Homo sapiens: one gene and its partners. The protein of the gene in region 1 interacts with the protein of each later gene in a biochemical or structural test. Each region holds a gene or a part of one and is shown in the gene's direction. Other genes may lie near its edges.

The links.
Region 2: of the proteins of CDK1 (region 1) and HMGA1, one has a biochemical effect on the other in vitro, tested with the Homo sapiens proteins (3 studies listed by BioGRID and IntAct).
Region 3: of the proteins of CDK1 (region 1) and CREB1, one has a biochemical effect on the other in vitro, tested with the Homo sapiens proteins (2 studies listed by BioGRID).
Region 4: of the proteins of CDK1 (region 1) and SP1, one has a biochemical effect on the other in vitro, tested with the Homo sapiens proteins (2 studies listed by BioGRID).
Region 5: of the proteins of CDK1 (region 1) and RPS3, one has a biochemical effect on the other in vitro, tested with the Homo sapiens proteins (2 studies listed by BioGRID, with this or other methods).
Region 6: of the proteins of CDK1 (region 1) and H1-0, one has a biochemical effect on the other in vitro, tested with the Homo sapiens proteins (3 studies listed by BioGRID).
Region 7: of the proteins of CDK1 (region 1) and RUNX1, one has a biochemical effect on the other in vitro, tested with the Homo sapiens proteins (2 studies listed by BioGRID).

The regions. Positions count from the first base shown.
Region 1 is NC_000010.11:60,777,168-60,781,277, forward strand, and holds the start of CDK1 (cyclin-dependent kinase 1), read left to right. Parts: upstream 1-1,310; 5' UTR 1,311-1,403; exon of another isoform or gene 1,404-1,501; intron 1,502-2,973; 5' UTR 2,974-2,998; coding exon 2,999-3,035; intron 3,036-4,110. UniProt on the Homo sapiens protein: Plays a key role in the control of the eukaryotic cell cycle by modulating the centrosome cycle as well as mitotic onset; promotes G2-M transition via association with multiple interphase cyclins.
Region 2 is NC_000006.12:34,243,302-34,246,731, forward strand, and holds the end of HMGA1 (high mobility group protein HMG-I/HMG-Y), read left to right. Parts: intron 1-166; coding exon 167-217; intron 218-1,529; coding exon 1,530-1,583; 3' UTR 1,584-2,930; downstream 2,931-3,430. UniProt on the Homo sapiens protein: HMG-I/Y bind preferentially to the minor groove of A+T rich regions in double-stranded DNA. It is suggested that these proteins could function in nucleosome phasing and in the 3'-end processing of mRNA transcripts.
Region 3 is NC_000002.12:207,553,509-207,557,820, forward strand, and holds part of CREB1 (cyclic AMP-responsive element-binding protein 1), read left to right. Parts: intron 1-2,119; 5' UTR 2,120-2,127; coding exon 2,128-2,241; intron 2,242-4,312.
Region 4 is NC_000012.12:53,403,791-53,408,102, forward strand, and holds part of SP1 (transcription factor Sp1), read left to right. Parts: intron 1-2,794; coding exon 2,795-2,963; intron 2,964-4,312. UniProt on the Homo sapiens protein: Transcription factor that can activate or repress transcription in response to physiological and pathological stimuli.
Region 5 is NC_000011.10:75,404,469-75,407,725, forward strand, and holds the end of RPS3 (small ribosomal subunit protein uS3), read left to right. Parts: exon of another isoform or gene 1-98; intron 99-203; coding exon 204-397; 3' UTR 398-400; intron 401-1,114; exon of another isoform or gene 1,115-1,145; 3' UTR 1,146-2,439; downstream 2,440-3,257. UniProt on the Homo sapiens protein: Component of the small ribosomal subunit. The ribosome is a large ribonucleoprotein complex responsible for the synthesis of proteins in the cell. Has endonuclease activity and plays a role in repair of damaged DNA.
Region 6 is NC_000022.11:37,803,251-37,807,932, forward strand, and holds H1-0 (histone H1.0), read left to right. Parts: upstream 1-1,978; 5' UTR 1,979-2,294; coding exon 2,295-2,879; 3' UTR 2,880-4,182; downstream 4,183-4,682. UniProt on the Homo sapiens protein: Histones H1 are necessary for the condensation of nucleosome chains into higher-order structures. The histones H1.0 are found in cells that are in terminal stages of differentiation or that have low rates of cell division.
Region 7 is NC_000021.9:34,884,854-34,889,165, reverse strand, and holds part of RUNX1 (runt-related transcription factor 1), read left to right. Parts: coding exon of another isoform or gene 1-360; exon of another isoform or gene 361-2,053; coding exon of another isoform or gene 2,054-2,069; coding exon 2,070-2,323; intron 2,324-4,113; exon of another isoform or gene 4,114-4,312.

The DNA.
Region 1 (4,110 bases):
CCTGATTTGGGTCTTCTAATACATACTTGTAGTGGATGTGGTAATCAGTCTTTGTTCTATGTCCCATTAGGATCAATGCAACCAGAAATCCTTAAAATGGATTTTTATTATGTCTAGCTCTGTTTTACTGTTCTATTTGTTTATTTTAAAAAGATTTTAGAATGGTGTTTAGGTTGGGCTGGTGGCTCACGCCTGTAATCTCAGCACTTTGGGAGGCCAAGGCAGGAGGATTGCTGGAGCCTAGGAGTTGGAGACCAGCTAGGGCAACATAAGGAGACATTGTCTCCGCAAACAAACAGAAAAAAAAAAAGTAAGAAAGAAAGAGAGAAAGAAGGAAAGAACAAGAAAAAGGAAAAAAAAATTAACTGCAGTAAGTGCAGAAATCTCTCTCAAGGATATGATGGATGGCAATGAAGACAGAGTTTTTGACACTGGATTATTTAAAGCATAATTTAAGCCTCTTTCTCTCCCCTCATAGAATTGTGAATTTTTGTGTTTTAATTATATTTAAGCCAGGCGTGGTGGCGAGTGCCTGTAGTCGCAGCTGCGCTGGAGGCTGAGGCCGATTGCTTGAGCCCAGGATTTGGAGGCCAGCATGCGCAACATAATGAGACCCAGTCTCTAAATGCATGCCTCTCTCTATATATTTAAAATTCTGATGTGAAAATATTTTAAAATTTAATACATTTCAAATGTTTTTAATTGTATAATAAACAAAATGTAAATAATAAAATAATTTAATATTAAATTCAAAAATGAGGTAGAAACAAAGCACAGCGATATAAATAATAAATTTTCCTTTACATTTTTGAGGCGGTCTTTTGAGTTTTCCATTTCCTTCTTAAGGTCACTGAAATGTGCTCCTTGGAGCCAGCCCGCAAATCACGCATTTAGAAAAACATAACTATACACTCCTAACCCTAAGTATTAGAAGTGAAAGTAATGGAATCTCGATGTAAACACAATATCACTTTTTTGATGAGCTATTTTGAGTATAATAAATTTGAACTGTGCCAATGCTGGGAGAAAAAATTTAAAAGAAGAACGGAGCGAACAGTAGCTTCCTGCTCCGCTGACTAGAAACAGTAGGACGACACTCTCCCGACTGGAGGAGAGCGCTTGCGCTCGCACTCAGTTGGCGCCCGCCCTCCTGCTTTTTCTCTAGCCGCCCTTTCCTCTTTCTTTCGCGCTCTAGCCACCCGGGAAGGCCTGCCCAGCGTAGCTGGGCTCTGATTGGCTGCTTTGAAAGTCTACGGGCTACCCGATTGGTGAATCCGGGGCCCTTTAGCGCGGTGAGTTTGAAACTGCTCGCACTTGGCTTCAAAGCTGGCTCTTGGAAATTGAGCGGAGAGCGACGCGGTTGTTGTAGCTGCCGCTGCGGCCGCCGCGGAATAATAAGCCGGGTACAGTGGCTGGGGTCAGGGTCGTGTCTAGGGGACGGCCGAGGGCCTCGGAGGGCGAGTATTGAGGAACGGGGTCCTCTAAGAAGGCCGGACTGGAGGTCAGGGATCTGCGCGGGGCCCGGCTGGGCCTCGGGGGGCGGTGGGCAGGGCCTTCGCCTGGGTCTGGCCGTGTGAGCCACACTGGGCTGGCTTTAGAGGGAGGCTATGGGAGCCCAGCCTGGCGGGGTTAGGCGGCGTGGGGGTGGGGGTTCGGGGCTGCAGTCATGAGTCGAGGTCGGCTGTTCTCAGGAACTGCCTGAAGAGGCTTTCGGGTCTTGATTGAAGCAAAATCCGCTCCCCCACGCTGAGCGCCTGCGGAGTAGCAGGCTCTTTCCTGGGCCCGGCCCCTGCGCGCCCTGCCATCCCGCCTCGGGGGTGGGAAAGTGGGACCGCACCTGGGCCAGGTACAGGCGCGGGTCCCTAGAGCCAGGCCGCCCTGAGAAACCGATCCTGGAACTCGTGGGCCTTCTTGGGCTTGCTCTGCCCACGGCCCCGGCCCACCTGGAGCTGTTAAGAACAGTCAGCCCAGGCACTTAACTCTCATGAGCAGTGTAGTGCAGTTTTTTTCATTTAAAAAGATACATCTCTGCTTCTTTCTGGATTGATTTTTCTTTGAAGATGAATGTGAGAAATAGAACTTAAAGGTCTATTCTGAGTGTGCTTTATAAATGATTTTATCATCAGTGATGGGTGTTAGAAAAATCTAGGTAATTATGCCTGGAGTTCTGACGTTTCATTGGCAAACTTCAGAGGAAGTCTTGAACTTCTGGTTGTCAGCTTTTTTTTTTAACCCATTCATTGTGATTCAAGTATACCGTTTTTCTGCTTAGTCCTTGACATTGTTTAGGTTATAATTAGAATTTTATCTGTGGAATTGCACTTTTCATTCTTTTGTTTTACGGTGCTTAAGTGATATTTCCTACTCTTGGAAAAAGTACCTTGAAAGTCTTGAGCATGTTTGTCTGTGACCTCAGCAAGCAGAGGAAAAAGATTAAAATTGTCACGTGGGCAACTGTAAACACTTAAAATGTTTTTGTCGTTTTAAACAAAATTTTCCTAATGAACAGTCTGAACACATTTTAGTTCTGTCCTCATAACTTTAAAAAATAATGTTTTGAATAAAATTAGGAGTATCATAAAGCGGTATAAATTTGTTGAAATATTTGGGTATAACTTTGGCACACGCAGGTACTACTTTAAAGTGTCACAAAAAGGGAACATAATTCTGGTTTTTGTTTGGAAAGAATAGACAAGTTGATACCTGAATTTGAGGGTTATTTTGATTGGAAGAAGCTAAATACTACACTAGTATAGAATATACACGTTTCCAATGTCTCAGGAGTCAAGAAGGATGGAAAGTTATTGTAGGAGTCCTTACCCTTGTAAATATTGTTTGAATGTAATTAATATTTATGGAATACTTATGCTGCAGTAGGCACTGTGGAAAATGCTTTACATATAGTGTTTCATTAATGCTTAAAACTACTCGAGTTAGTGGCATGTAATTAAGTCAGTTTTTCCTTCACTTTAGGATCTACCATACCCATTGACTAACTATGGAAGATTATACCAAAATAGAGAAAATTGGAGAAGGTGAGTGGTTTTAGTAAAATAAATTTTATGGAATGATTTAACAATGCTACAACTTCTGTAATATGAACACATTTAAATATTTATTAAAATTCAACCATTAAGTTGTCTTGTAGTACCAGTGTGCATTAACATATGTTCTTTACTTAATAAACGCAAATTTGCTCACATTTCAAGAGAATTGAAATTACCGAATCCCTAATGACCGTTCGCCTCACCCCCATAGTCTTACAGTCTTCTGATACTAAACACTTATAGTAGTACTTGTATTTTGAAGACACTATTGATAACTTGCATGTGTGTTGAGGGGCAGAGGTTAGGGCTGCAGAATTATGCTAACTTCATAATATATTTTTAGTTTTAGTCTCTTTCAATTGTTTTTAGGATGATAAATATTTTTATCCAGACTTTATAGACTGGTTACAATAATTGACTTAATCTAATTTAAATAAAATTTCTATTTAGTTACCCTAAGTATAAATGACCTGTCATATAGACATGTTTAAGCTATTCTAAAATTATAACTTATGTATATAATCCTTCCCTTTCTGTGGTACTTGAAGGAATGTTTAGATCTATATATGGCACAAATGAGGGGTATATCCCTTCGCCTGTTCCTCGACTCCAGCAGAACATTCTCGATTCTCCAGGTACAAAATAATTTGCTAATAGAATCCAGTTTATATAGGTTCTGCCAGAAGAAAATTCCCAACTATATTTTTAATGTGATCAAAGACCCCACTTGACAAGAAATAGTGAAAAACAAGGGGGAATACTGGAGGGAATTTAGTGGAATAGGAGTGACAAGTTAGTGTGGTGTTCGATTGGAGGTGTGTGTGTGTATACATATATATATATATTTTTTTTTTAAATCACTTAAATACCTCATACCCATTCTACTAAACAAATTTTGCTGCTGAATTAAAAATATGTGATTAGTATGTCTAATGCTGTGTAGTGTGTTTCTTAAATTCCCAGAGAATTTGTGTTGGTTTTAGTTTGGCATAAAAAGAGACCTTCTTAAAGTATAAATATATTTTTCTTTAAGATGATAGAACTCCAAACATACAGGAGACTG
Region 2 (3,430 bases), on another chromosome or scaffold:
AAATGTGGCTGGCCAGTCATTGCCAGCTGGACTTGGGTGGGCCTGTTGGGTGAGAGTGTTGGGTCACCCTGAACAGGCAGGTAGGTCTGCCCCCCATCACTATTGGGCATCGGGTGAGCACTGATGAGCATTTTGGACTTAGGAGATATTTTCTCTAACCCTCTAGAAAACCACCACAACTCCAGGAAGGAAACCAAGGGGCAGACCCAAAAAACTGGTAGGTGAAGAAGCAGACTGCTGCTTGCCTCCTGGGCTCTTTTGAGTTGAGGGTGTTGAGTACACAGTACCTGATGCTATGCACCCCCTATGGAAAGGCTCTCCTTGACCTGCTGGGACATCAGATTTTACAGAAGTCCAGAGAGGGGAAGGTACCTGGCCTGGGCTGTGCCCATGAGAAGTGAGGGGTCCCAGGTATAAATCAGACCACATCCCCCTGCCCTGCCCTGCCCTAGTTGTGTGTGGGGGTCCCTCCCTCTCCTGCTCCTAGAATACTCAGAACTTCTAGGGGAGATCTTGGAAGTCATCTAGCCTGTGTCCCCCTCAATTAGAGATGAGGAAAGGAAGCCATAGGGGGAAGGTTTGTCCTTCCTATGAGCCTCTGCAGAAGAGAAACAGCGAAGGAGCTGGGCCCTGGGAGGGGTCGGTGCTGGAGTTCTGATGTGACCCACCACACTGCACTGGAGGGCACCATCCAATTCTGGGTCCCCAAACAGCTGGTGGAAAGGCTCGGTGGGCTGAGTCAAGAAGCTGCCTCTAGGGGGCCACTGCAGTTAGGGTCACCCCAGCCTTCCAGCTCCTGGCCCTCTCCTACCCCCAGCCTGCCCCCTCAAATCCCTGAAGCTGTCATTCCTTGAGCTGAGCCACTGCTGGGGTGGGGGGGTTAGGGGGTGCTGCTGGCCAGGCCCCAAGAGTGAGTAACAGGAAACAAGTTGTTTTGGAGTTTGTGCCTGGCACGGGGGCTGTAGCCCCGTGTGGTGTCCCGACATTCCCGCCCAGTGAGTGAGCCCCGGCGGCACACACTTCCCCTTCCTCCCCACCCCGGCCTAGGGTCAGCCCTCGGCCACCCCGGAGGGCCAGGGCACCACAGCACAGCATCTGCCCCTGTGGGCCAAGGACCTGGTTCCCCTGCACCCACCAGCGGGCTCTTGCACCTTCCAGCCACCCCTTCCCATTTCCTCCCCCAGCCACCTCTTCCCCCACCTCCTCTTCTCCCCTAGGGAGTCAGTCACATCCTGAAGCTCATTGCTGCCCTGAGCTCTGCCCTCCTGCCCTCCCTGGGCCTGGGGGCCAAGGGGGCTTGGCTCCTGGCTCTGGGTGAGAGCAGCATGTGTGTGGGGTTTTTTCCTCCTTTTAAATTCTTTTTATGAATGAAGCCGGGCCGTGGAGGTTGCTGAGTCACCCACACACTCAGCCCTGACTCATCCCTCTTCAGGAGAGCCAGGGAGTGCAGGGAGCGGGTGGGGCCAGCCTCTGGGGGTGGAAGAGGGGGACCGGGCCAGAGCTCACACCAACAACTGCCCACCTCACAGGAGAAGGAGGAAGAGGAGGGCATCTCGCAGGAGTCCTCGGAGGAGGAGCAGTGACCCATGCGTGCCGCCTGCTCCTCACTGGAGGAGCAGCTTCCTTCTGGGACTGGACAGCTTTGCTCCGCTCCCACCGCCCCCACCCCTTCCCCAGGCCCACCATCACCACCGCCTCTGGCCGCCACCCCCATCTTCCACCTGTGCCCTCACCACCACACTACACAGCACACCAGCCGCTGCAGGGCTCCCATGGGCTGAGTGGGGAGCAGTTTTCCCCTGGCCTCAGTTCCCAGCTCCCCCCGCCCACCCACGCATACACACATGCCCTCCTGGACAAGGCTAACATCCCACTTAGCCGCACCCTGCACCTGCTGCGTCCCCACTCCCTTGGTGGTGGGGACATTGCTCTCTGGGCTTTTGGTTTGGGGGCGCCCTCTCTGCTCCTTCACTGTTCCCTCTGGCTTCCCATAGTGGGGCCTGGGAGGGTTCCCCTGGCCTTAAAAGGGGCCCAAGCCCCATCTCATCCTGGCACGCCCTACTCCACTGCCCTGGCAGCAGCAGGTGTGGCCAATGGAGGGGGGTGCTGGCCCCCAGGATTCCCCCAGCCAAACTGTCTTTGTCACCACGTGGGGCTCACTTTTCATCCTTCCCCAACTTCCCTAGTCCCCGTACTAGGTTGGACAGCCCCCTTCGGTTACAGGAAGGCAGGAGGGGTGAGTCCCCTACTCCCTCTTCACTGTGGCCACAGCCCCCTTGCCCTCCGCCTGGGATCTGAGTACATATTGTGGTGATGGAGATGCAGTCACTTATTGTCCAGGTGAGGCCCAAGAGCCCTGTGGCCGCCACCTGAGGTGGGCTGGGGCTGCTCCCCTAACCCTACTTTGCTTCCGCCACTCAGCCATTTCCCCCTCCTCAGATGGGGCACCAATAACAAGGAGCTCACCCTGCCCGCTCCCAACCCCCCTCCTGCTCCTCCCTGCCCCCCAAGGTTCTGGTTCCATTTTTCCTCTGTTCACAAACTACCTCTGGACAGTTGTGTTGTTTTTTGTTCAATGTTCCATTCTTCGACATCCGTCATTGCTGCTGCTACCAGCGCCAAATGTTCATCCTCATTGCCTCCTGTTCTGCCCACGATCCCCTCCCCCAAGATACTCTTTGTGGGGAAGAGGGGCTGGGGCATGGCAGGCTGGGTGACCGACTACCCCAGTCCCAGGGAAGGTGGGGCCCTGCCCCTAGGATGCTGCAGCAGAGTGAGCAAGGGGGCCCAAATCGACCATAAAGGGTGTAGGGGCCACCTCCTCCCCCTGTTCTGTTGGGGAGGGGTAGCCATGATTTGTCCCAGCCTGGGGCTCCCTCTCTGGTTTCCTATTTGCAGTTACTTGAATAAAAAAAATATCCTTTTCTGGACTGGAGTCTCCTGTGGTGTGTGCCCCTAAAGCCTGGGGCAGGTAGGATGGGTGACACTTGTGTTCTGGCCCCCATCCTTCAGGCTGCAGGAAGGGAGGGGAAATAGCACTGGAATCACCTCCGGGGAAGGTCATTTTAAGCCTCTTGATGAAATCAAAACCCCTAGCCACAAAACATTTTATTTACAAAATATATACTGAATACTATACATCTGGCCCCATCACCATGGAAACAACTCCAAAGCCTGCCTGGGGATTTGTGCCCAAGCCCAGCCCAGGAGGGCTAGAGAAAGCAAAGGTGTCTACCAGCCGCCCCCATCCCAGAAGGAAAGCCTCTTCCCATGAGTGCCTGTGGGTGGGCGGTGAGCTCAACACCCACAAAGGGCAGAAGGCCTGGGGGCAGTGAGGTGATGGTGAGGGCATGGGAAGCAGATGCTGCTGAGGGTGGGTGGAGGGAGAAATGGAGACCCAGCACCCAGCAGGGGGAGCCAGGTGACAGCA
Region 3 (4,312 bases), on another chromosome or scaffold:
TTATTTGATAATTTTTAAGTTTTCTTATAATTTAGAAATACAGGGTGAATAGGCAAAATGTAAACAAAAATGGTAATTTCATATAAAAAAGTATCTGGTGTTTAAAAAACTTTGTATGCATCTCAAAATCATGATTAAAGTATAGTTTTGGCTTATTAAAGTGTTATATATGTCTTCTGATATTAAAATTTGTTTTAATTATCCAAGTAATCCTGAATCCATTCTCATGGGAAGAAAGATACTTAAGTCAATATTAAAATACTGAAATATGTGAAGAGTTAAAGGTGAAAGTCATTCTGTACAGTTCTACAAAATTCTGTTTCTCTGTTCAGAGCTACTGCTTATAGTTTAGTGTTTAATCTTGCACACCTTTTGCATGCATAAACCTTTACAACAATTTGTTTTACTTTTTTAAAAAAATAAATGGGGCTCTATTTTACAATGTGTCAATATATTAATTTTTTTTCATGGTTACAATTTTGTAATGGTTCTCTTAATGATGGATAATTGTTTTCAGGGGTTTTTTTGCTATGATTTAAAAAATTTTACAGTGAATACTGTTGAGCTACATCTCTGGATATTACTATCGATTATATGGTCAGTGCACTTGTGGCTTTATGAATATTTTAAATAATGTAGTCAAGTCTGTTGATCTTTTTCCTTGTCATCTGTGTTTTGTGGATTTTGGTATTTCCAAACTATATTCATTTCTACAGAGTTATTTTCATTTCCATTTTTTGAACTGTCACTTGTAAAACACTTTCTTTTTATAGAACCTTATGAGTGATAGCAAGATGTATTAGTATGTAATACATTGTGATGGAGTGTAATGATCACAAGGATCAGTGACAGTTTTGATGACCAATTTCAGAGTTATAAAATAAATGAAATATATTCTGGAAAAGTCATGGGCTTTTTGTGTTGTTTGTGGAATCACTAAAGGTAGTCCCTCACTATTAACAAATTTGTTTTGACACATAATATGTGAGGCACTGAATTATAATAGGCACTAGAAACATTGCCTATTTTCCTGAATCCTTTAGACAGGATTGCTTCCCCAGTTACCAGAGATTTCTCTAACCTTGATTTACAGTAGCTACTGCTGGTAGGAATTGCTCTCCACTCCACTTTTGCTGCCATCCAGTGTTACATTACCCTACAAATATACTAAGTGCTTAGCAAAGCAGAGTCCAAATGTAAGATCAATTTTTGTCTTACCCAGAATTTTACAATTAAAATATATAAATAAAAGATTTCTCTGTGTGTGGATGTATGTGTACAGTATAGTGTTGCATGCTATACATGGGGTGAGGTATCAGAATGCTTTTTCAGTGTTTGGCACCTCTAATTTGGCTCTGTGGCCATTTATTCCACCTTTCTACCTTGAAATTCCACAACTTGGGCTCTTGAAATTACCTGGTATGGTGCAATGCACGTGTATTCTCAGCTACTCCAGAGGCTGAGGCGGGAGGATCACTTGAGCCCAGGAGTTTGAGGTTGAGATTGAGATGAACTGTGAGAACATGCTACTGCACTCCAGTCTGGGCAACAGAGCAAGACCTCATCTCTAAAAAATTTTGGGCTTGAAACGGGCTGATTTTGTCCTACCACTAGTAATCACTTTTAGAAGTAGCTTACAATTGCTGTTTCTTCCTTCTTATGGGGGGAAATACCCTTATAGGAGGTATTATGAAGCCAATATCTAATAAACTCTGTCATCATTAGCTCACTTCCACTCTTCTGCCATCTCTCTGTACCTGATTAGTATAGTTTTGAAAAATTATAATTTTGCTACCACTGCACCTCTCCTTGTTAGTAGGGGAGATTTATGTAAGAGAAGAATCTTTTATTTCTAGACAAGGTAATATCCCATTGGGAAGAAACAGCCAAGGGAGAAGAAATGTTTTTTTCTTCTTTGAAGGGACTAGAACTTTTATAGCTCAGCAAATTTGAATAAGTTTGATGGTAATTCAGCTACATTATATTTTAGCTAGATTTCTGAGTTCATTTGGTAACCTAACCACCACATATATACCTATTTATAACTTGAAATTTGCCTTTAAAGTCACGAAAGCACAAAGCACTGTGGTGCTTGTAACACTCTTCCATATTATTATAGGTAACTAAATGACCATGGAATCTGGAGCCGAGAACCAGCAGAGTGGAGATGCAGCTGTAACAGAAGCTGAAAACCAACAAATGACAGTTCAAGCCCAGCCACAGATTGCCACATTAGCCCAGGTATAAAATACATGGAGAGATTCCAGTTTGTGTCTCTTCCTAGAGGAATACGTTTCCAAGAGAATTTAGTTGTTATTACATAGATATACATAGAATGAGCAGAGATACTCTTACAATATCAAAATTCCTATTTACTTAGTATTAGAGTATATTTAGAAATGATAGTATTAATTCAATAACAGTAAAATGTATTATTAAACAATAATACAGTATTTTTAGTGAAATGATCCAGAAATAATTACATTTTAAACTTATGGGTAAATGGTGCTCTCAGATAAGGGAAGAAAACCTTGGCTATGTATGACAACTGCTTTTTTTATTTTTTTAATATGACACAGATTTATTTTTTAACAGTGGGAATGCAGATAATATGAAAGCCTAAGTTTATATAACTAAACTAAAAATTAGGATAAGCAAATAAATTGACATGTAAGGAAATTTTAAGGATGATAGCAGTTTTTGTTTCCTGTATATTTTAAATATAATTTCTGATTCTTTCATTTCATCTTTCTCTTTAACATCCTATCTTTAAGAATATTTTCTCTCATTCTTATGTTTTTGTTTGCATGCATTCTCCTCAACTATTTTATTAACAGCTGTTTACATAGATAGGAATGAGAAAGGTGGTTAACTTAAAAAACAAATAGCAGATACAGACCTGCTAGGTAATAGTGTGATACCGTCTCTTTCAGATGAAGGTTCCCAGGAGAATATAATCCTAGCAGAAGCTCTGATATATGTAGCTTCAGTTTCTCCAAGAGTTTAAAAGTTCCTAGAGAAGTCACCTAGCAAGAATGAATCATGGGAAATAGAGGACTCACCACACTTGGGTGTCTGGCTGAGGTAGTGTGAGCCAGATACTGGATTTCCAGCAAGAATATAGTCAGAAGGAGTGAGCTGTTCTGTGTTTTCTCCTAAGACCACCAGGGTTTACCTCCAGCCTTCAGGAATAAGACAAAGCCAAATACATCTAATGTACTCATACGAGGCAGGCTGCAGGATTGAAGGGGAGAGAGCCAGGACTTCCATCAATATAGGGTCAACAGATAAGAATCTGGGCTCATCTGTATATTTTGCCCTTTAGAAAGAGGAAGACACAATGCTAGGCCGGGCGCTGTGGCTCACGCCTATAATCCAAACACTTTAGGAGGCTGAGGCGAGCGAATCACTTGAGGTCAGGAGTTCAAGACGAGCCTGGCCAACATGGTGAAACCCCATCTCTACTAAAAATACAAAAATTAACCAGGCGTGGTAGCACACACCTGTAAATCCAGCGACCTTAGAAGGCTGAGGGAGGAGAATTGCTTAAGTCCGGGAGGCAGAGGTTGCAGTGAACTGAGATTGCGCCACTGCATTCCAGCCGGGGTGACAGAACAAGATTCCCTCTCAAAAAAAAAAAGAAGATGCAATGCCAGCAGGCTTCTTTATGATGATAGCCCTTAACACATCTTATCTCTGGAGTCACACTATTTTGTCCAGTCTGGTTGTCCCCAGAGTAGGCTGTATTGTGTCATCCTGGGAATTCCTTTCTCCCTACTTCCATTTTCTCACAGTTTGTGTTTTTGATATGGTAAAGCATGTTTTTCAGTGGTTTTATGAGAAAGAAAGGTTGGCTGAGTAAAGATAGCATGTTATAAAAATTGAATGTATGGGCCGGGTGTGATGGCTCACACCTATAATCCCCACACTTTGGGAGGCCGAGGCAGGCGGATCACGAGGTTAGGAGATTGAGACCATCCTGGCTAACACAGTGAAGCCCGTCTCTACTAAAAATACAAAAAAATTAGCTGGGTGTGGTTATGGGCTCCTGTAGTCCCAGCTACTCGGGAGGCTGAGGCAGGAGAATGTCATGAACCCGAGACCGCACCACTGCACTCCAGCCTGGGTGACAGAGCGAGACTCCATCTCAAAAAGTAAATAAATACAAATAAAAATTGAATGTACATGTGCCTTAACATCTAGAAGATGTACAACAAAAATATTAAAAGTGATTAGCTATGGGTGATAGGAATATAAAGGGTTTTTATTTTATTTTTTATATCTGTATTTTATAAATTTATAATGAGAGGAG
Region 4 (4,312 bases), on another chromosome or scaffold:
AACATTTTGGGGGGCTGAGGCGGGAGGATCACTTGAGCCCAGGAGCTCGAGATCAGCCTGGACAACATGGTGAGACCCGGTCTCCTTAAAAAAAGGAAAGGCCGGGCACGGTGGCTCACGCCTGTAATCCCAGCACTTTGGGAGGCCGAGGCGGGCGGATCATGAGGTCAGGAGACCAAGACCATCCTGGCTAACACAGTGAAACCCCGTCTCTACTAAAAATACAAAAAGTTAGCCGGGCGTGGTGACGGGCGCCTGTAGTCCCACCTACTAGGGAGGCTGAGGCAGGAGAATGGCGTGAACCTGGGAGGCGGAGCTTGCAGTGAGCCGAGATCGCGCTACTGCACTTCAGCCTGGGCGACAGAGCGAGACTCCGTCTCAAAAAAAAAAAAAGGAAAGAAGTCTTGAGAAGAATATTATCTGCCACTTTATAAGATATTACTTTTGCGAAGAATATTATCAGCCGGGTGCGGTGACTCACGCCTGTAATCAGCACTTTGGGAGGCCAAGGCGGGCGGATCACAAGGTCAGGAGTTCGAGACCAGCCTGTCGAAGATGGTGAAACCCCATCTCTACTAAAAAAATACAACAAAATACAAAAAGTAGCCAGGGGTGGTGGTGGGTGCCTGTAATCCCAGCTACTCAGGAGGCTGAGGCAGGAAAATCGCTTGAACCCAGGAGGCGGAGGTTGCAATGAGTCAAGATTGTGCCATTGCACTCCAGCCTGGGCAACAAGAGTGTAACTCAGTCTCAAAAAAAAAAAAAAAAGAATATTATCTGTCACTTTTTACCAGTGGCCTAGAGCTGTGTTTGAAAATGTCAAATGTGACCAACTGAGTCATGATGAGAGTCTAAAGCATTTTAGCATACACTGTTTATTTATATATATTTTTTTGAGTTGGAATCTTGTTCTGTTGGCCAGGCTGGTGTGCAGTGATGTGATCATAGCTCACTGTAGCCTTAAACACCTTGGCTCAAGCAATCTTCCTCCCACCTTAGCCTCCTGAGTAGCTGGGACCATAGGCGCATGCCACCATGCCCAGCTAATTATTATTATTATTTGGCGACGAAGTCTCGCTCTGTCGGCCAGGCTGGAGTGCAGTGGCACAGTCTCGGCTCACTGCAACCTCTGCCTCCTGGGTTCAAGCAATTCCTGTCTCAGCCTCCCGAATAGCTAGGATTACAAGCGTACTCCACCATACCCAGCTGATTTTTTTTGTTTTGTTTTTGTATTTTTAGTAGAGATGGGGGTTTTACCATGTTGGCCAGGCTGGTATTGAACTCCTGACCTCAAGTGATCCAACCACCTCGGCCTCCCAAAGTGCTGGGATTACAGGCGTGAGCTACCATGCCCAGCCTATTATTTATTTTATAGACAGAGTGTCCCTATGTTGCCCAGGCTGGTCTTGAACTCCTAATCTCAAGCAGTTCTCCTGCCTCAGCCTTCCAAAGTGCTGAGGTTACAGGCAGAACCACATGTAAATATATGGGCATTGCTGGTTCAAATTAGATGTACATTTAAATATTTTCAAACTGGCCTTCAAAAAGTTGTATTAATTTATCACTATTTGTGTATGAAAATGTCTCTTTCCGGCTGGACATGGTGGCTCATGCCCACCCGTAATCCCAGCACTTTCGAAGGCCGAGGCGGGTGGATCACCTAAGGTCAGGAGTTCGAGACAGCCTGACCAACATGGTGAAACCCCATCTCTCCTAAAAATACAAAAAAGTTAGCCAGTCATGGTGGCATATACCTGTAGTTGCAGCTACTTGGGAGGCTAAGGCAGGAGAATCACTTGAACCCAGGAGATGGAGGTTGCAGTGAGCCCAGATAATGCCACTGTACTCCAGAGCCAGCGAGACTCTGTCTCAAAAAAAGAAAGGAAAGAAAAGAGAGAGAGAGAGAAGGAAGGAGGGAAGGAGGGAGGGAGGGAAGGAAGAGAGAGAGGGAGGGTCTGTTTTCCTGTACCCTTACCAATGCCGTATGTTATTAGGGTTTCAACTTTTGGTAATCTGATAGGTGAAAAATTACAAATGCGTTATAAGTGGAGTTGCATTTTAAAAACTATGATCGGGGGAGGGATAGCATTAGGAGATATACCTAATGCTAAATGACGAGTTAATGGGTGCAGCACATCAGTATGGCACATGTATACATATGTAACCTACACGTTGTGCACATGTACCGTAAAACTTAAAGTATAATAATAAAAAAAAACAACTATGAGATTTGATCAGATTTTTACGTATTTATTGGCTCTTGGTATTTTCTTTCTTTTTTTTTTTTTTTTTTTTTTTTGAGACAGAGTCTTGCTCTGTCACCCAGGCTGGAGTACAATGGTGCAGTCTCGCTAACTGCAACCTCCGCCTCCCGGGTTCAAGCAATTCTCCTGGCTCAGCCTTCCAAGGAGCTGGGATTACAGGCATGCGTACCATTCCCAGCTAATTTTGTATTTTTAGTAGAGACGGGATTTCTCCGTATTGGTCAGACTGGTCTTGAACTCCTGACCTCAGGTGATCCGCCCACCTCGGCCTCCCAAAGTGATGGAATTACAGGCGTGAACCACTGCGCCCAGCCACTCTTGGTATTTTCAATGATGATTCTTGAGATTTCAGTGAGTCTTCAGGTGTCAGTGAATGGAATGGCTAAACATAAAAAGGCTTCAAAACTTGTGATACTGTGAATGTAGGATGTCAGTTCAAAAGAAATGATGTTGTGACTGTAGGGTATCACTGAGATGCCAGTGATAACCTGCCCATGTCACATGTTGACCCTTTTCTCTCTTAATTTCAGGTGATCATGGAGCTCAGCTTGGTCTCCATGGGGCTGGTGGTGATGGAATACATGATGACACAGCAGGTGGAGAGGAAGGAGAAAACAGCCCAGATGCCCAACCCCAAGCCGGTCGGAGGACCCGGCGGGAAGCATGCACCTGCCCCTACTGTAAAGACAGTGAAGGAAGGTGAGTTGACCCAGCCAGTTTCTTACAAATATAAAGAAAAATTAATAGATTTGGAGATAAGAGGAAGAAGATTAATTTTTTTTTTTTTTGAGACCGAGTCTGACTCTGTTGCCCAGGCTGGAGTGCAGTGGCGCAATCTTGGCTCACTGCAAACTCCACCTCCTGGGTTCACGCCATTCTCCTGCCTCAGCCTCCCGAGTAGCTGGGACTACAGGCACCTGTCACCACACCCAGCTATCTTTTTTTATTTTTAGTAGAGACAGGGTTTCACTGTGTTACCCAGGATGGTCTCGATCTCCTGACCTCGTGATCTGCCCGCCTCGGCCTCCTAAAGTGCTGGGATTACCAGCGTGAGCCACCATGCCCGGCAAAGGTTAATTTTTTTTTTTAGGATTTAAGACTCAGAGCTGGATGCATATAATCCCAGCACTTTGGGAGGCCAAGATAGGAGGATCACTTCAGCCCAGGAGTTTGAGACCAGCCTCAGCAAGAAAGCGAGAGCCGATCTCTACAAAAATTTAAAAATTATGTGGGAATATTTTACTGGCCATAAAAAGAGAAAATGAAAAAAAAAAAAATTTTTTTTTTTTCTGAGACAAAGTCAGTCTGTGTTTCCCAGGCTGGAGTGCAGTGGCACATTCTTGGCTCACTGCAACCTCCACCTCCTGGGTTCAAGCAATTCTGCCTCAGTCTCCCGAGTAGCTGGGACTACAGGCGTGTGCCACCACGCCCGGCTAAGTTTTTCTATTTTTAATAGAGACAGGGTTTCACCTTGTTAGCCAGGATGGTCTTCATCTCCTGACTGTGTGATCTGCCCACCTCGGCCTCCCAAAGTGCTGGGATTACAGACGTGAGCCACTGCACCTGGCCAAAAAAATTTATTTATTTATTTTTTTGTTTTGAGATGGAGTCTTGCTCTGTTGCCCAGGCTGGAGTGCAGTGGCACAATCTTGGCTCACTGCAGGCTCCGCCCCCTGGGTTCACGCCATTCTCCTGCCTCAGCCTCCCTAGTAGCTGGGACTACAGGTGCCCGCCACCTCGCCCAGCTAATTTTTTGTATTTTTAGTAGAGACGGGGTTTCACCGTGTTAGCCAGGGTGGTCTCGATCTCCTGACCTTGTGATCCGCCTGCCTTGGCCTCCCAAAGTGCTGGGATTACAGGCATGAGCCATGGGGGCGCCCGGCCTTTTTTTTTTTTTAAGACAGATCTTCATCCGGGTACGGTGGCTCACGCCTGTAATCCCAGCACTTTGGGAGGCCAAGGCGGGCGGATCACCTGAGGTCAGGAGTACAAGACCAGCCTGGCCAACATGGTGAAACCCCATCTCTACTAAAAGTACAAAAATTAAC
Region 5 (3,257 bases), on another chromosome or scaffold:
GGTCCTTGTCAGTGCCATGTTCTGTGGTGCTGTGCACGAGTTCCTTTGGCAGAAGTGTCCTATTTATTGATCGATTTAGAGGCATTTGTCTGAGAAGGGTCCAGACCCAGGGGTGCTTGAGTAAACTGCTTGCTCTCTTTGGTCTTGTGTGATGGGGGCCTTTGAGACCCCAGCTGTGTGCTAACAACTGTGGTGTCCTCTAGGTGTGCTGGGCATCAAGGTGAAGATCATGCTGCCCTGGGACCCAACTGGTAAGATTGGCCCTAAGAAGCCCCTGCCTGACCACGTGAGCATTGTGGAACCCAAAGATGAGATACTGCCCACCACCCCCATCTCAGAACAGAAGGGTGGGAAGCCAGAGCCGCCTGCCATGCCCCAGCCAGTCCCCACAGCATAACAGGTATGTCTGCAAGGGCAGGGGCCTCTTGGGGCATAATAGGGTCCTTCCGAGTCTTTCTGTTAATACTTGTATCCCACATTCTGGTAAGCGTTTGGTGAATAAAAATTTCATTTATTTGCTTTATGTGGGAGAATACAAGTTGAAACCTGGGGTCTATTTAACCCTTGGTTCCAATGGGACAGGTGTTGCCTTTATTCTTTCCAGAAAGAAGTTCCTGCTTTTACTCGTGTATATGAAATAGTTTTCCCTTATCCTCCCTTATTTGCTCAAAATTTTTGGCTCAGTGCAACCTCTGCCTCCCATGTTCAAGCAATTCTCCTGTCTCAGCCTCCCGAGTAGCTGGGATTATAGGCACCTGCCACCAAGCCCAGCTAATTTTTGTGTTTTTAGTAGAGACGGGGTTTCACCTTGTTGGCCAGGCTGGTCTCAGACTCCTGACCTCAGGTGAGCCACTGTGCTTGGCTGCTCAAGATTTTCTAGGCACTTTTGCTATTCTGTCCTTTAGCAGCCCCTGTAAAACACTAACAAGCCTCCTGTGGTCAACACTTGGGGTTTTTTTGTTTATAGGTGTTGTCTCTCCAGGTGCCTTGTATTTTTTTTTTTTATATGAAAAAGGACAAACCCTTATGTATGCATTTTATTAATGTTGCTGCAAACCCTAAGTGGGAGTGTGTATCCATTTGGTAAATCAGGAACTTAATAACTCTGGTAAAGTTTCTTACTTTTGTGCTTTATTTGGTTTCAGGGTCTCCTTGGCAGCTGTATTCTGGAGTCTGGATGTTGCTCTCTAAAGACCTTTAATAAAATTTTGTACAAAGACACAAGGTCTGACTAGACTGTTCAGTATTCAGACTGAGGGGCATGTTGGCCTCTGGAGCATTACATATCTTCTTGGTTTTAACCATACTTGTGGTATTTGCAAGGGCCAGAACAGTAAGACCCAAGCAGAGCCAACCAGAGAAATAATATTTGTGTGATAGAGAAGGCTGATAGCAAGCAAGGCAGCACCTTGATTCGTTGTCCTGTAGTTCAGGATTGTAGGTTTAGAAGAGGGATATGTTTGAGTTTTTCCTATGCATAAGGCGATCCACGTTGCACATAGAAAGTGAATATAAATGGCCATTATATTTTGTGTCATGCTGTGCTCTAAGTGTTCTTTACATATGTACTCGTTAATCAACCTCTCTAAAGTGTAAAGGAAATTTGCTTGCACCACTGAAGGCACATAAGGCTCAGAAGTAAATTTGCCTAAGCAGTATAAAGCTATCATTAGAATCCACATTCCTAAGTTGTGTTCTCTTAGGGGATCATGGAACCAGTCATTGGTACTACAGGCTATTATGTTCTGGAGAACTGTGAAGAACATTTAAATTGTCTCTGATTTTATCTATCAATGTTTTGAAGTATTTTCTACCAGTGTCTGTACTTCACAAGAAATTCGGCACTATTTTTTCAGGCAAAACTAGTGAGGGACAGGTTGGCTTGAAAATCATGAGACTGTTGTTAAATCAGATGCTGGTTGATCACAGAGGGGACTTCCAGGGAAAGCTGTTATCAGGTGGCTGCTTCCTGGTGATGCAGCCTGGCTGATGAGATAACCCTGGCTCCACAGATGGCTTAGCAGGTGCTGTGATGATTTGGTTTTCTTCTCAATTAGACTGAGCTGCACATGGTGTTTATATTGCTTGGCACATGGTAAGGGCTTAATATTTGAGGTAATTATGTAGGGCGTACACTGACAAGTATCTGACCCCCCCTTCCTTTTTGACTCATAAATTGGTCATCTTAACCATTTAAGTGTACACTTCTATAGTGACAGAGTTAGCCCTCTGTCCAAGGGATTTGCATCTGTGGATTCAACCAACTTTGGGTCAAAAATAATCAAAAAGGATGGTTGTGTGTGTATTGAACATGTAGACTTATTTTTCTTATTTTCAAAATACTATATTTTCTTGTCACTTATTTTCTTGTACACTGCAGTTGTAACAGCTATGTAGCATGTACATTAGGTATTAAAAGTAATCCAGTGAAGATTGAAAGTCTAAGGATGTGCCTAGGTTATCTTAGGTATAAATACTCTACCATTTTGTATAAGGAGTTTAAGCATCTGGGGATTTTGGTATTTGAAGGGGGTCATGGAACCAATCATTGGTACTGCAGGAAGACTGCTCTATATTCTCATTGTGCATCAATCTCCAGAACTTCATCTTGCAGATGTGCTGCCCCTCCCTCACCTTTTTGAAAGAGCCTTTGATGATTATATGGATTCCTGTCTTTTTTATTTTTTGAGGTGGAGTTTTGCTCTTGTGTGCCAGGCTGGAATGCAGTGGTGCTATATCGGCTTACTGCAACCTCCGCCTCCTGGGTTCAAGCCATTCTCCAGCCTCAGCCTCCCGCTAGCTGGGATTACAGGCACCCGCCACCATGCCCAGCTAATTTTTGTATTTTTAGTAGAGACCGGGTTTCCCCATGTTGGCCAGGCTGGTCTCAAACTCTTGACTTCAAGTGATCCCCCCACCTCGGCCTTCCAGAGTGCTGGAATTACAGGCGTGAGCCACCGCACCCAGCCAGTTGAACTTACTTGAACATCCGCAAATTATTTTTTATTATTTTTATTTTTTGAGACGGAGTCTCGCTCTGTCACCCAGGCTGGAGTGCAGTGGCGCGATCTCTGCTCACTGCAAGCCCCGCCTCCCTGGTTCACACCATCCTACCTCAGCCTCCCGAGTAGCTGGGACTACAGGCGCCCGCCACCAAGTCTGGCTATTTTTTTTTGTATTTTTAGTAGAGACGGGGTTTCACCGTGTTAGCCAGGATGGTCTCGATCTGACCTCGTGATCCGCCTGCCTCGGCCCCT
Region 6 (4,682 bases), on another chromosome or scaffold:
CTTAATGGGAACCCGAGTTGTCTTTGAAAATAACCAAAACAAAGCCACCAGAATGTTGTGTTTTCAAATGACGAAACTTAAGAGAAATTGACACCATCAAAAGACGAACCTTGACCTTTTGAACTAACCTGACCCCCCATTGCTTCCCTTCCCCGCCTGTGCCACGGAGATAAGCCCAGAGAGAAGGCATCTGACACCGAGTCTTGCGCTCCCCCTCCCCCTTCCTCCCCTAATCATTTGGATTAATCCATCCCTTGGCGTGCGGGGGAAACCCATTAATTTGTCCTGGCTTCAGAGACTCCCAGGTCCAGTAGGAGCCCTCCCACACCCACGCAGCTACGATCCCGTCCCCAACATCAAAACCCTCGAACCCCTCCCCTTTACCCCTCCCCAGTAGCCCACTGTGTCTGCAAACAGCTCTTGGACCATACCGGGATGCGTTCATCATTTTGACCAGCAACAAACTCCCACTCCCAGGGTATTGTTTAAGTGAACAGTGACCGGCCTCTATGCTTAGGGAATAAAAGCGGGGTTGTGGGAGAGGGGCCCAGGGAGCAAACGTCGCAGAATCTCAGCCCAGGGCCGCTGCCAAGCGGACCCGGCACGTGAGTAGGAGGTCGGCCGCAGACAAGGGGTCCTAGGGTCTCTGAGGTCTCTCCTGCTGGCCTCTGGGCCCCTAAAGCCCCTCGAGCTTCAGAACTCCCTACAGACAGTGGCGCCCCGTGTCCGCCTCGTCTACACCTGCCAAGCAGCACGGGAAAATCTGTGTGCATTTTAACAAAGACATCGCATCTTCCCAGCAAAATGGCGGTGGTCGCGGCCACGGCTCTCTAAACAACTCCACACTTTCCGAGGACAGGTCACAACCCAAGGGACATAACCCCCTCCTCGACCTCTACCCTAGCGCCCCGCTTTCCCAAGTCCCCAAAGCACTCAGGGCCTCTCCTCATTACAGGGGCCCCCCGGACCGTCCCTGGTTAGAGCTTCTGGGGCAGCTTCTCCATTGTGGACCGCCCTCCCCCGCCCCCACATTGCCTTCAAGGAGCCTTGGGACGGGGACTGAACCCCCAGGCTGGGCCTCACGGATGGGGGGCAGCGAGTTCTGTCTCTGACACCCCAAAACTTCCAGGCTAAGAGAAGCACACAAATGAATTCCCGATTAGGGTATATGGGAGATGTAGGGGTCTTTGAGGAGAAGAGGCCACCCGGGAGGCCCTCCTCATCTCTCAGAGGGTCCGGGCAGCACTGGGGGTTCGGCCTCAGGAGGGAACCTCAAGGCAGAGGTCGGGGGGCGCGCTGGGGGAGAGACGGCAGAGGAGGGGGAAGGGACAAAGTTTGAAAGTACCCTTCCAACTCTTTCAGGGAAAGTTTCCTTGGGGGCCCCATGGACAGAGGGGGTAGAGGTGTGGAGGGACCGGTGGCGGGGTGACCCCCGAGAGGTGACCGGACCCCGGGGGAGCGACCCCTCCCCCCTGTCCCGGCTCGGCCCGGCTGGGAGTCGCCCAGCTCGGGGCCGCGTGTGTTAGTTGGGGCCGCTTTCCGGCAGCTCCACCGGGCTAGGGGACCCCGCAGCGGGCCGGGAGCAGAGCCCCCGGTAGCCTCAGGGGAGAGCTTTGCTACGGGGGGTTTCCCGCACCGAGGCTCCCTAGCCCCGCAGAGCCAGCCCCCCGCAAAGGGGAAATGTGCCGGCACACCAGCGGTCCTCGGCGCCGTTTGGGGTGCGTGGCGGGCGCGGGGGGCGGCGGCCGGGCCAGCGGGCCGCCCGGCGGGGAAGCCCAGGGAGCCAGGCAGCGGCCCAGGGCGGCGGCGGGGAGCAGGAAGGCCCGGGCCGGGGGGAAAGGTCGGATTTGCTCGGCGGAAGAAACACAGATGGCGGCGGCGCAGCGCCATTCCGGGCCGGGAGCAGGCAGCCAGCAGCCCTGTCCTCACCGCGGTCCGCCCGCCGCCGCTAAATACCCGGATGCGCCGCCCAAGCGCCAGACGCGGAGCTGGGAAAAGGGAGGCAGAGGAGGCGGAGGCAGAGGCAGAGGCAGAGGCAGAGCCCGAGCCCGGTGCCGAGACCAAGCGACAGACCGGCGGGGCTGGGCCTCGCAAAGCCGGCTCGGCGAGCTCTCCCGACACCCGAGCCGGGGAGGAAAAGCAGCGACTCCTCGCTCGCATCCCCGGGAGCCGCACTCCAGACTGGCCCGGTAGTCAGGGGCTCAGGAGCAGATCCCGAGGCAGGCTTTGCTCAGCCTCCGACGAGGGCTGGCCCTTTGGAAGGCGCCTTCAACAGCCGGACCAGACAGGCCACCATGACCGAGAATTCCACGTCCGCCCCTGCGGCCAAGCCCAAGCGGGCCAAGGCCTCCAAGAAGTCCACAGACCACCCCAAGTATTCAGACATGATCGTGGCTGCCATCCAGGCCGAGAAGAACCGCGCTGGCTCCTCGCGCCAGTCCATTCAGAAGTATATCAAGAGCCACTACAAGGTGGGTGAGAACGCTGACTCGCAGATCAAGTTGTCCATCAAGCGCCTGGTCACCACCGGTGTCCTCAAGCAGACCAAAGGGGTGGGGGCCTCGGGGTCCTTCCGGCTAGCCAAGAGCGACGAACCCAAGAAGTCAGTGGCCTTCAAGAAGACCAAGAAGGAAATCAAGAAGGTAGCCACGCCAAAGAAGGCATCCAAGCCCAAGAAGGCTGCCTCCAAAGCCCCAACCAAGAAACCCAAAGCCACCCCGGTCAAGAAGGCCAAGAAGAAGCTGGCTGCCACGCCCAAGAAAGCCAAAAAACCCAAGACTGTCAAAGCCAAGCCGGTCAAGGCATCCAAGCCCAAAAAGGCCAAACCAGTGAAACCCAAAGCAAAGTCCAGTGCCAAGAGGGCCGGCAAGAAGAAGTGACAATGAAGTCTTTTCTTGCGGACACTCCCTCCTGTCTCCTATTTTCTGTAAATAATTTTCTCCTTTTTTCTCTCTTGATGCTCACCACCACCTTTTGCCCCCTTCTGTTCTGACTTTATAAGAGACAGGATTTGGATTCTTCAGAAATTACAGAATAATTCATTTTTCCTTAACCAGTTGTGCAAGGACAGCAACAACCAATCTAATGATGAGAATGTACTTATATTTTGTTTTGCTATTAACCTACTTACGGGGTTAGGGATTTGCGGGGGGGGCTTGTGTGTTTTGTTGGCTTGTTTGCCATGAAGGTAGATGTGGGTGGGGAGAAGACACAAGGCAGTTTGTTCTGGCTAGATGAGAGGGAACCCAGGAATTGTGAGGTTAGCAGGAATATCTTTAGGGTGAGTGAGTTTTCTTTGAGTTGGGCACCCGTTGTGAGAGTTTCAGAACCTTTGGCCAGCAGGAGAGAGGTGGTAGGGAGCAGCCAGCCGGCAAAGGAAGGAGGGGGAAAAAAACCGCCACCGGGCTGACTTCCACCTCCCAGTGGTGAGCAGTGGGGGCCCAAACCCAGTTTCCTTCTCATTTTTGTTAGTTTGCGCTTTCGGCCTCCCTATTTTCTTAGGGAAGGGGAGTGGGGTCCAAGTGACAGCTGGATGGGAGAAGCCATAGTTTCTCCCAGTCAGCTAGGATGTAGCCATTGGGGGATCTTTGTGGCTTCAGCAAATTCTCTTGTTAAACCGGAGTGAAAACTTCAGGGGAAGGGTGGGGAGTCAGCCAAGTGCCTCAGTGTGCCCTGTTGAAACTTAGGTTTTTCCACGCAATCGATGGATTGTGTCCTAGGAAGACTTTTCTTTTCCTCTGGATTTTTGTTCCTCCTGTACAAGAGGTGTCTTTGCTTGGTTTGGTGGGGCTGCGGCCACTTAAAACCTCCCGATCTCTTTTTGAGTCCTTTATTATAAGTAGTTGTAGCTGCGGGAGGGGGAGGGGGAGTGGGCGGGCAGTGGATAGTAAGACTTACTGCAGTCGATTTGGGATTTGCTAAGTAGTTTTACAGAGCTAGATCTGTGTGCATGTGTGTGTTTGTGTATATATACATATCTAGGGCTAGTACTTAGTTTCACACCCGGGAGCTGGGAGAAAAAACCTGTACAGTTGTCTTTCTCTTATTTTTAATAAAATAGAAAAATCGCGCACTTGCGCGTCCCCCCCCCACCCCCTTTTTTAAACAAGTGTTACTTGTGCCGGGAAAATTTTGCTGTCTTTGTAATTTTAAAACTTTAAAATAAATTGGAAAAGGGAGAAACTGAGCGGTGTATTTTTCCTCACTTTGAAGACTGGAGAATGAATGCGGAGCGGTTAGGCGGGCAGGCAGTGGGGACATCTGGGGCGTTTGCACCTGAGAATGGCGGGGGAGGGTTCAGGAGCTGGACAGAAGCCAGGAATCCTTAGTCCCGGAGGCTGCGGAACGTGCCTTAGCCGGCTTCTAGGCTTCTGCCTTTGGGGTCCAGAGGGTACCCCATTTCCGGCCGAGAGGTGAGTACGTGGGAATGCGGTGGGGAGTCTGGTGGGCTTGGCCCTGACGCGACTTCCTCCGCCCCCTTCCCTCCCCTCTGCCATCCGGACTTCGGCAGTCTCAACTTACAAGTCAAGCCTCTCGGTCCCTGGCGGATCCCGCCAGGCCCCGCCCACCCGTCCTAGGCCCGCCTCCCCGCCTTTTTAAGCGAGCCCCCCTAGCTCCGATTGGCTGCTGGAGCCCGGCCCCCGGCCACGCGACCAGGCTGCGTCCGCGATGCGCACGGCTCC
Region 7 (4,312 bases), on another chromosome or scaffold:
CGGGCTGCAGCCCGGTTCGGGAGCCTCGTGGCGGCCACTGCGCCTGCCTGCAGCGGCTCGCGGGGCCGGGCCTCTCCGGGTGCGGCGCGCCGGCCGGGTCCTCCTCGGGCCGGCGGGGCCTGCTTTCTTTTTCCAGGTCTCCGGACCGTGGCCACTCGCGGAGCCGCACAAGCCTGCGTGTGGCTGCGGAAAGGGGTCCGCACGCGGGCGGGGCCCCGGGCCAGCATGCAGGCTTGGATGCGGGGCGCGGGGGTGGCCTCCGACTCCCCGCCCGGGCTGCGTACAGTAGCGCGCGGCGCGGCGGCGGGGGCGCGCGGGCCAATTCCAGGAGCCGGCGGCGGCGAGCCGCGCCCTGGCTGATACCGGAAAGGCCTGTGATTGGCCGCCGGCCGCCCCTATGCAAACGAGCTGAGGGAATGGAATTCCTCCGGCCGGGCTTACAGTAAAAGCACGTTCATTTCCAGGCACTCTCATTCATAGAGCCAGCGGGCGCGGGCGGGACGGGCGCCCCGCGGCCGGACCCAGCCAGGGCACCACGCTGCCCGGCCCTGCGCCGCCAGGCACTTCTTTCCGGGGCTCCTAGGGACGCCAGAAGGAAGTCAACCTCTGCTGCTTCTCCTTGGCCTGCGTTGGACCTTCCTTTTTTTGTTGTTTTTTTTTGTTTTTCCCCTTTCTTCCTTTTGAATTAACTGGCTTCTTGGCTGGATGTTTTCAACTTCTTTCCTGGCTGCGAACTTTTCCCCAATTGTTTTCCTTTTACAACAGGGGGAGAAAGTGCTCTGTGGTCCGAGGCGAGCCGTGAAGTTGCGTGTGCGTGGCAGTGTGCGTGGCAGGATGTGCGTGCGTGTGTAACCCGAGCCGCCCGATCTGTTTCGATCTGCGCCGCGGAGCCCTCCCTCAAGGCCCGCTCCACCTGCTGCGGTTACGCGGCGCTCGTGGGTGTTCGTGCCTCGGAGCAGCTAACCGGCGGGTGCTGGGCGACGGTGGAGGAGTATCGTCTCGCTGCTGCCCGAGTCAGGGCTGAGTCACCCAGCTGATGTAGACAGTGGCTGCCTTCCGAAGAGTGCGTGTTTGCATGTGTGTGACTCTGCGGCTGCTCAACTCCCAACAAACCAGAGGACCAGCCACAAACTTAACCAACATCCCCAAACCCGAGTTCACAGATGTGGGAGAGCTGTAGAACCCTGAGTGTCATCGACTGGGCCTTCTTATGATTGTTGTTTTAAGATTAGCTGAAGATCTCTGAAACGCTGAATTTTCTGCACTGAGCGTTTTGACAGAATTCATTGAGAGAACAGAGAACATGACAAGTACTTCTAGCTCAGCACTGCTCCAACTACTGAAGCTGATTTTCAAGGCTACTTAAAAAAATCTGCAGCGTACATTAATGGATTTCTGTTGTGTTTAAATTCTCCACAGATTGTATTGTAAATATTTTATGAAGTAGAGCATATGTATATATTTATATATACGTGCACATACATTAGTAGCACTACCTTTGGAAGTCTCAGCTCTTGCTTTTCGGGACTGAAGCCAGTTTTGCATGATAAAAGTGGCCTTGTTACGGGAGATAATTGTGTTCTGTTGGGACTTTAGACAAAACTCACCTGCAAAAAACTGACAGGCATTAACTACTGGAACTTCCAAATAATGTGTTTGCTGATCGTTTTACTCTTCGCATAAATATTTTAGGAAGTGTATGAGAATTTTGCCTTCAGGAACTTTTCTAACAGCCAAAGACAGAACTTAACCTCTGCAAGCAAGATTCGTGGAAGATAGTCTCCACTTTTTAATGCACTAAGCAATCGGTTGCTAGGAGCCCATCCTGGGTCAGAGGCCGATCCGCAGAACCAGAACGTTTTCCCCTCCTGGACTGTTAGTAACTTAGTCTCCCTCCTCCCCTAACCACCCCCGCCCCCCCCCACCCCCCGCAGTAATAAAGGCCCCTGAACGTGTATGTTGGTCTCCCGGGAGCTGCTTGCTGAAGATCCGCGCCCCTGTCGCCGTCTGGTAGGAGCTGTTTGCAGGGTCCTAACTCAATCGGCTTGTTGTGATGCGTATCCCCGTAGATGCCAGCACGAGCCGCCGCTTCACGCCGCCTTCCACCGCGCTGAGCCCAGGCAAGATGAGCGAGGCGTTGCCGCTGGGCGCCCCGGACGCCGGCGCTGCCCTGGCCGGCAAGCTGAGGAGCGGCGACCGCAGCATGGTGGAGGTGCTGGCCGACCACCCGGGCGAGCTGGTGCGCACCGACAGCCCCAACTTCCTCTGCTCCGTGCTGCCTACGCACTGGCGCTGCAACAAGACCCTGCCCATCGCTTTCAAGGTACTGGCCCGGAGAGGGTGGTGGGAGGACAGGCGGAGGCCGGCGAGGCCGGGGGAGATCCGCGAGGGCAGCGGCCAGGCGGGCGGGGCCGGATTCTGGAAAGGGGCCCCCGCAGCCCCGGGTCGGTCTTCCTAGCTTGGGATGTGGGGGATGCTGTGTTGCCGTGGCGACCCTCGGGAGGCACTCGTCTCAGCTTTCTGGGGCGGCCTCCCAGGAGGGCTGAAAACATCAGGGTGTCCCCAAAGATATCCACTGGGAGCCGGTCGGGACCTCCCTGGCAGGGGCCTTAGCTTTGATACAAAGTAGGAAAAGTTATAACCCAGCCCGGCAGAGACAGCCCGTCTGCTAACTTACTGCTGCCCCTACCGCTGGATTAACACCCAAACCATTTTGTCTTCCTCAGATGAAAGGATCAGGAAATAAAATAGTAAGACTTTTCTGCCTTCAAGTCAGTGAAAAGAAACTAACTAGGGAAACTGTCAGGGATTTTTTTTCCCCTTCTCTAACCGCCCTATAGGAATTAGCATGTCCAAAGTCCACAGCGGGCGTAGTTAAGTTTGCAAAAGTTTTCTGAAGAGTTCTCTGAGCTTTTTAGCCTGCTCCTGCCAGAAGCCGCAAGTATCGAATCCTGTTTCTTTTCCCGGAACCGTTCTGAATGCTATCATCAGCTCACCTAGATTAAGCCAGGGGTAGCGAAAGGTGACGAGGCTGTTTTCGGAGAGCCAGGGGTCCCAGCGGCCCGCTTTCCTGCTAGAGGAGGGGGCGGCGCGTAGCCGGAGACTTCAGCGCGGCGGCTCCAAAGATCTCCCTTCACTTTTCACCCCTGATCATCCCCAAAGCTTTGAGCTGCCTTTAAAAACCTTGACCTTCAACAGGGGTATGAAAACAACCCCAGGCGTTTCTAAACAATCACCCTACTACACTAGCAGCAAGCAGTAGGAATTTAATTTCTGCAGTGGAGATTCTGTTTTGTCTTTGGTGGGTTTGAAAAGATGCGACTAAGTAAAATCAGTGCGGGTCATTTCCTGTTCGTTTAAAGGGCGAATCAAGGCAGGTGGTTCCAAGTGTAAAGATAAGCTACTAAAAAAAAAGTTTAAATAATTGTCCCCTTTAAAGGGAGATTAATTTAATATAAGCTTTTTATAGTTCCAAGCCTCAGCTGGGTCTTGATCTTATTACAACGACGAATATTCACTTTTTAAAAAAGTATTGTTGCGGTTATTTTTAAGCTTTATACAGTTTCCACACTTAGATTGTGATTTCTAAAACAAAACGAAATTTGCAGTTGGCTGTGTCTATAGATTGGCCTCTTTTTCCACTCACTTTTCTAAAAGCAGTTTTTTTTGTTTGTTTTGTTTTTTAGTGGGGGTGGAAATGAGGAGAAGGAACGAAGGAACGTGGTGGCTTGCTTGACTCTTTTTTCCCTCCCTCCGTTTACTTAGATTTGGGTTTGGGAGACCATTTTACTTTTAAATCATTCTAACCCTTTGCCTAAATGGACTCAGCGATGACTCTTTAGGGCACCCGCATTGAGAGGGGACCCAACAGGGTTGGGCCATGGGGTCACTATCAGATAAAGAGCAGAGGCAAGACGGGCTGATAACCACCAAAGGCCATTAAAACCTGGCTGCCCCAATGCACTAGGGCTCTAAGAGATTTGTGGCTTCCTTTTGGGGGGGAAATCAGGGTCTCTTCTGAACTCCCTCCTCTGCCAGGGAACCCACACTCAAATATATTAAAAGACTAAATGATTAATAAATAATCTTCAGGAATTGGAGCAATTCAGAGTCTCAAGCCATTACATGAAAGTATTTATTTTCTTCTAAAAAATGAAAAATTATACATATTGCTTTTATGAGCTGTCAGAATTCTTTCTAGCAGAAACCATAATAACCATAGAGTTTCCTTTTTAAAATGACTTTTGGCAATTCACTTAAAAACAATTAATTTGTTTTATTGAGTGATAATCTATAGGCTACTAAAAATCCA